Linked DNA regions of Homo sapiens. The protein of the gene in region 2 interacts with the protein of the main gene of each other region in a pairwise test. Each region holds a gene or a part of one and is shown on either strand. Other genes may lie near its edges.

What was found.
Region 1: the proteins of PMP22 (region 2) and DDX52 interact in a two-hybrid assay, tested with the Homo sapiens proteins (one large-scale study listed by BioGRID and IntAct).

What each region holds. Positions count from the first base shown.
Region 1 is NC_000017.11:37,626,371-37,630,108, forward strand, and holds part of DDX52 (probable ATP-dependent RNA helicase DDX52), read right to left. Parts: coding exon 3,660-3,738; exon of another isoform or gene 3,506-3,659; coding exon of another isoform or gene 3,479-3,505; intron 2,303-3,478; coding exon 2,191-2,302; intron 491-2,190; coding exon 418-490; intron 1-417.
Region 2 is NC_000017.11:15,231,803-15,234,326, forward strand, and holds part of PMP22 (peripheral myelin protein 22), read right to left. Parts: intron 812-2,524; coding exon of another isoform or gene 741-811; exon of another isoform or gene 1-740. UniProt on the Homo sapiens protein: Might be involved in growth regulation, and in myelinization in the peripheral nervous system.

The sequences.
Region 1 (3,738 bases), about 22 Mb from region 2:
CTCTTCCCCATCTGCCACCATGTAAGATATGTCTTGCTTCCCCTTCTGCCATGACCGTAAGTTTCCTAAGGCCTCCCCAGTCATGCCCTGACTTGTGGGTCAATTAAACCTTCCGTTCTTTATAAATTACCCAGTCTCAGGTAGCTGTTTAGAGCAGCATGAAAACGGACTAACACAGCAGGAAAAAGGTAAAAGGAAGATAAACATAGCTTAATGTACCTATTCCAATAGCCTCAAAGATACGAGGTTCCATTTCTTTTCTATGAATTTTTTTAAAAAACCATTATTCTCAGTGCCAACACTGACTGAAGGTGGCAAACAGCAAGCTCCAAAGACAAAAAATACAAGCAATAGAGGACAAAATATAATTAACTAAATTAAAAATACACACGAAAGACATGAAAATATCATCTATACCTTGCTAGGTCGATTCCGGGGGGATCTTGCTTTAATAAATAGATTAGTCGATTTGGAGTAGTCACAAGAATATCTATAGGAAAAACAAATGGTAGAAATTGCAAAAACAGGATTTATCCCTCTTGAACTAGGAATTAAGCCTCCTCAACTTCAGTTAATAACCTGAAGTGGGAAGTAGTCATAGCCAACAACACAAAACTATTATATCCCTACTTTCCTTTTAATATATCTGAGCAGCTTTCTCTTTCTTTTTGAGACAGGGTCTTGCTCTGTCACCCAGCCTGGATGGAGTACAATGTGTGATCATAGCTCACTGCATGCAACTTCAAACTCTTGGGCTCAAGAGATCTTCTGGCATCAGCATTCTGAGTAGCTGGGACTACAGGCACATGCCACTGCACCTGGCTAATTTTTATTTATTACTATTATTTTTTTGAGACAGTCTAGCTCTGTCGCCCAGGCTGGAGTGCAGTGGCACAACCTCGGCTCACTGCAAGCTCTGCCTCCCGGGTTCACGCCATTCTCACTCCCGAGTAGCTGGGACTACCACTAGCTGGGACTACAGGCGCCCGCCACCACGCCCAGCTAATTTTTTGTATTTTTAGTAGAGATGGTAAATTTTTTTTTTACTTTTATTTTTGTAGAAACAGGGTCTCCCTATGCTGTCCAGGCTGGTCTCGAATTCCTGGGCTCAAGCAATCTCCCTGCCTCAGCCTCCCAAAATGCCGGATTACAGGCATGAGCCACAATACCCAGCCTCTTCTCAATTTCTAAGAGGAAAGAACAATTTAATTTTCAAATCTTTTTTTCCCCCAGGAAAATCATTTTTTTTACATGGAATTTTATGCAGAGGCCCAAGATTTAAACAAAACAAAACAGATGAAAGCTTATCTCCAAGTGGACAATGTCAAAAAACAAAAAGAAAAAAAAAAAAAATGAAAGCAGATTCTCTGGCTGATATAAGGGTGAGGATGTAAGCCGTTCTTTTTGTTTTTTTTAAGATGGAGTCTCACTCTGTTGCTCAGGCTGGAGTACAGTGGTGCAATCATAGCTCATGGCAGCCTTGAACTCCTGCGCTCAAGTGATCTTCCCACCTCAGACTCCCAAGTAGCTAGGACTACAGGCATGCACCACCATGCCTGGCTAATTTTTTTTTATTTAAAAAATTTCTTTTAGAGATGGAGTCTCGCTATGTTGCCAAGGCTGGTCCCAAACTCCTGGCCTCAAGCAATCCTCCCACCTCAGCTTCTCCATAGCTATAGGTATGGAGAAGATTACAGGTGTGAGCCACTGCACCCAGCTATGCATGCCATTCCTGTCTGCCAGAGTATTTCCATGGCAGATTAAAAATCAATGGTATAAATCAGAATTTTTTAGCCTCAGCACTGTTACCACTTTGGGCCACTAAGTGTTCGTTGCAGGGGACTGTCCTGTGCACCGCAGAATGTTTAACAACATCCTTGGCTATAGGCTAGTAACTACAGGCTAGTAGCACTTCTCCCCAGTTGTGACAACTACAAATGTCTCCAAATTATTGCCAAATGTCCCTGTGGTGAAAGGTGGGGGGCAAGATTGTCTCTATTTGAGAACTACTGGTATATATTTATGTATAACTTCTCAGTAGAGTGAGAAGGGGATCGCTTTAGTTCTTCTAAAATTCAAATTTTATACATACATGACTATACTTTAACAACACTTACATAGCAATTAGGATATTTATAATTTCCAGATTCCTTACATGCTCTATCTACATCCCATGTATGAATTCCTTACCAAACTTTTTAGATGATTTAGGTCCAAATTTCTTGGCTGCCACTGCTGCTTTGTGGATCATGTGTATTCTGAATCCTGTTCCCTCAGAAATTTTTATTAACTCTCTGTGAATCTAAAAAAAAAAAGATTAAAAACATTAGCTGCTAACATACTTGGACAAGATGTATACTCTTTTACATGATTAATGAAATAAATCTATTACCAACCCATGAATATCTGAAATTAAACTCATAACAATCTGTAGATTAACCTGAAATCTCAGCATTTTGAAACTTCAATGCCTAATAAGATTCAATAATTTCTTCAGGTGGAATAAACTAGTTCCCAGAGATAAAACTAACCTATTTTGTATTGTTTTCAGAATACAGTACTACTGGCCGGGTGTGGGGGCTCACACCTGTAATCCCAGCGCTTTGGGAGGCCAAGGTGGGTGGATCACTTGAGGCCAGGAGTTCCAGACCAGCCTGGCCAACGTGGTAAAACCCCATCTCTACTAAAAACACAAAAACAATTAGCCAGGTGTGATGGTGCGCACCTGTAATCTCAGTTACTTGGGAGGCTGAGGCAGGAGAATCACTTGAACCTGGGAGGCAGAGGTTGCAGTGAGCCGAGATGGCGCCGCTGCACTCCAGCCTGGTCCACAGAGCATGACTGTCCCAAGAAAAAATACACACACACACACACACACACACACACACACACACACACACACACACATAGTACTATTACAAGACTATTTCATACTTGATATGTGTTTCATATTAAGCACATTGGGAGGGTAGAACAGATCACTGTATACTTTTCCCTTCTAAAAAAAACAAACTGAGATGAGTCAGGCATAATGACTCATGCCTGTAAGCCCTGTACTTTGGCAGGCCAAGGTGGGAGGATCACTTGAACCCAGGAGTTCAAGACCAGCCTGGGTAACATAGGGAGACCTTGTTTCTACAAAAAGAAAAAAATTAACCAGGCGCAGTGGCATGTGCCTGTAGTCCCAGTTACTCAAGAGGCTGAAGAGGGAGATCTCTTGAGGCCAGGAGTTCGAGGTTGCAGTAAGCCATGATCACACCACTGCATGCCAGCCTGGGTAACAGAGTAAGAATCTGTGGCTAAAAAACAAACAAATAAATAAATAAAAACCAAAACTAAGATGAGTATTCATTTTTTTTAGATGAGAAAAATAAATGTCCAAGCAGGGCTATATTTAATTAGCCTTTCAACTTCAAAGACCTTAAAGCATTTACCAAAGAAGTGTAAATATTAAAATCACTGTGTTTTAGAAACTTACAGAAAGACTTAAAAGACTTGCCCACATGGAGTAAGATCCGGAGCACTGTGCTGTGTAGAGGATACTTGACCATGACAGAAGACGTGGGCCTTGCTTTTTAAGATCTTTTTATTACCTTCAAATAAGAAAGATCACTGAAGTAAAAACCAATCGCATACTCTTCAAAAGCTACAAGTCATACCTGGCTGGCAAGTTCTCGTGTTGGTGATATAATCAGGGCTCTGAAGCCTTTATTTGCGGGTTGTTTCAGCTGCATTAAA
Region 2 (2,524 bases):
CTAAAGGGCACTGGATATGCAGGTGGGTCAGGCCACCCTCCCTGGCCCACCAATGCAGCCCTTCGGTGTTGGAAAGAGAAGAAAAGCCTCCATCTTGGGCCCTGTGGAGCAGCCACGCTCAAACTGATGGCCCCAGCTCACGTGACAGACAGCGTCCCCCCACAAGGAGGGGTCCAGTGATGTCAGCACCCCAGCCTGGAGCTGCACAAAGCCTGGTCTGTTTCCTCCCTGAAAACAGGGTCTTTGAGAAGCTCTGAGTGACTCTATTATAAATCCAGTATGCCGTGTGGGATTCATGCAGTTCCAGAGTTCCCAATGCACCCGCGCCCCCCCACCGCCCGGCCACCTACATCTAACCTCACTGCTATTTGGGCTGCTGTTTTACTGGACACTGCAACTTTGTTTGAAGACAGTGCAGAAGTGGGAATACGCCACATGAACCACCCTGTTAAGCCTGTCCTCCTGCAACTCAGAGGAGAAAACTGCCACTTGACTGGCCCCTGTCAAGAGAGCCACACAATAGTCTTGGAACCAAAATGGGACAGCATCCAGGACCTGCCACCTACAGGAAGTTCAGAAGACAGCAAAGATGGCCATGTCAGGAGCGAAATCATTGCGGGTTAATTGTTGATTGCAGAAAACAGCAGTTTTGATCTGCTGGGGACACACTTTATTTGCCTTGAGGTCCAGGATCCTTAATTATCTTGCCCCACTCTTCCACGGCTTGCATCTCCAAAGTGCTAACTCTTGTCTTTAAGAAATACTGAAGTTGTCTCTTGGGCTCTGTCTGACTTATCTAATGAAGGCAGGGCTATAAAAAAGGAAACATGACCTTGGCAGAGAGAAAGGTGTTAACAGAGTGCTAGCAGGGCAGGACAACACTTATCATCATGCAGGCAGGGCTCCCAAATGGGCTGTCTAACCAGATCTGGCATGAGAAATGCCTCAGGAGCTGAGTGGACCAGCTACTCCCCGATTTCACTGACTAAGAGGAGATACCAGATTCCATCCTTGAACAAGAGGGATAGAAAGAGGCAGTATAGAGAAGTGCAGCGACTAACTACACAGCTTAATGTGTATGACTTTCATCTTAGTAGAATCTCAGAAGTGAATGACTCTAAGCTTAACCGTGATAAGCAGTAAACTTAGATATCTACAAAGCCAAAGAGAGGATACACACTTTATATGATTGTTGTCATGAGACTGATGTTTTAGGGAATATATTATTACAAGATTGTCTGCATGTAAAGCAATAGATGTACCCTGAAATAGAGAAAAGGATGATTCTTTGGCTGGGTTCCCTCTGTCTGCAACCCAAGACAGTTAATGTCATCCAGTAGTCATCTCCAAAAGCCAAATACCCCTAGTAAGTGGACTGTGACTCACTTTCTCAGCAACCAGTAGGTGGAGATGTATCACCAGGTCCCTGTGGCAAGGGTAAGTGAGGCCCTGAGGCACAGGCAGATGTTCTGCTCTTTGGCAATGACCGGGACTCCCTGGTAGGGGCCTGAGTCTGGGAGCATAGGTCATCTTTAAGCAGAAGGACACTGACCCTGTCCAGACAATACAAATGTGCTGAGCATTCAACTTACAAGAGTTTCTCCCTGTCTCAGGATGGGTAGGTCTGCAACAACTTCCTGCAAGTTCTGCCTAAAGCCCTTTTGAAGAGAAAGTCTTAAGCTCCTTTAACAGTGACTGCAACCCCATGAGAGTGATTAGAGCCCAGAGCCTCTGGAAGGAAGCACCCAAGGGGCCAAGGTCAAAGGAAGTAGCTGAGGGAATTCCCAGTACATCCTTATCATCTCCATTCCCTTTGGTTCAGTGAACATTTAATGAGTGCCTATTGCATGCGGGCCCTGTTCTAGCTGCTGCTCTAGATGTACCAAGATAAGTGAGACATGGCTCCTACCTTAAGGACTGTGTGTCTAGAAGACAGACATTTGCATATAATTTCAATATAGTTCGATGGAATTTCGAGAGAGGGAAGGAAATGCACCAGATGCCCCAAGAGCATAGACGGGCGCTGAGTCCAAACTGGAGAACTGGAGAAGCCACACGGACTCTCATATAATAGGCTGATTAGCTCACTAAGGGTCAGGAAAGAGAGGGCCTTACATGACATGTTAAGGAAGCTGTGATGAGAAGCCTCTGAGGAAACTTCAGCAGAGGAGAAACATGATCAGACGCACGTTTTAGAATGATCACTCTGGCCATGGTGCAGAAAATGGATTCAGGGGCAGGGACAAGGCAGGTAGCTGGAAGGTGCATGAGGAGGCCTTTGCATAGCTGCACTGGGGTTAGTGAGTCAAGACAAAGAAATGGGCGTAATGCCTACGGAGGATGCTACCCAAATGCAGGATTCAGTAGAAGGCTGGCTGTGGGGTGAGGGAGAGAGGAGAGGCCAGCATGACCGCCTGGTGTGTTCACTCAGGCAAGTGGGAACACAGCGATGTCTCAGAAGCCAGGGGAATAGAGCTTCAAAGAGTAAGTAGCTAACAGTATTGAAAGGAGCAGAGTGATCCAA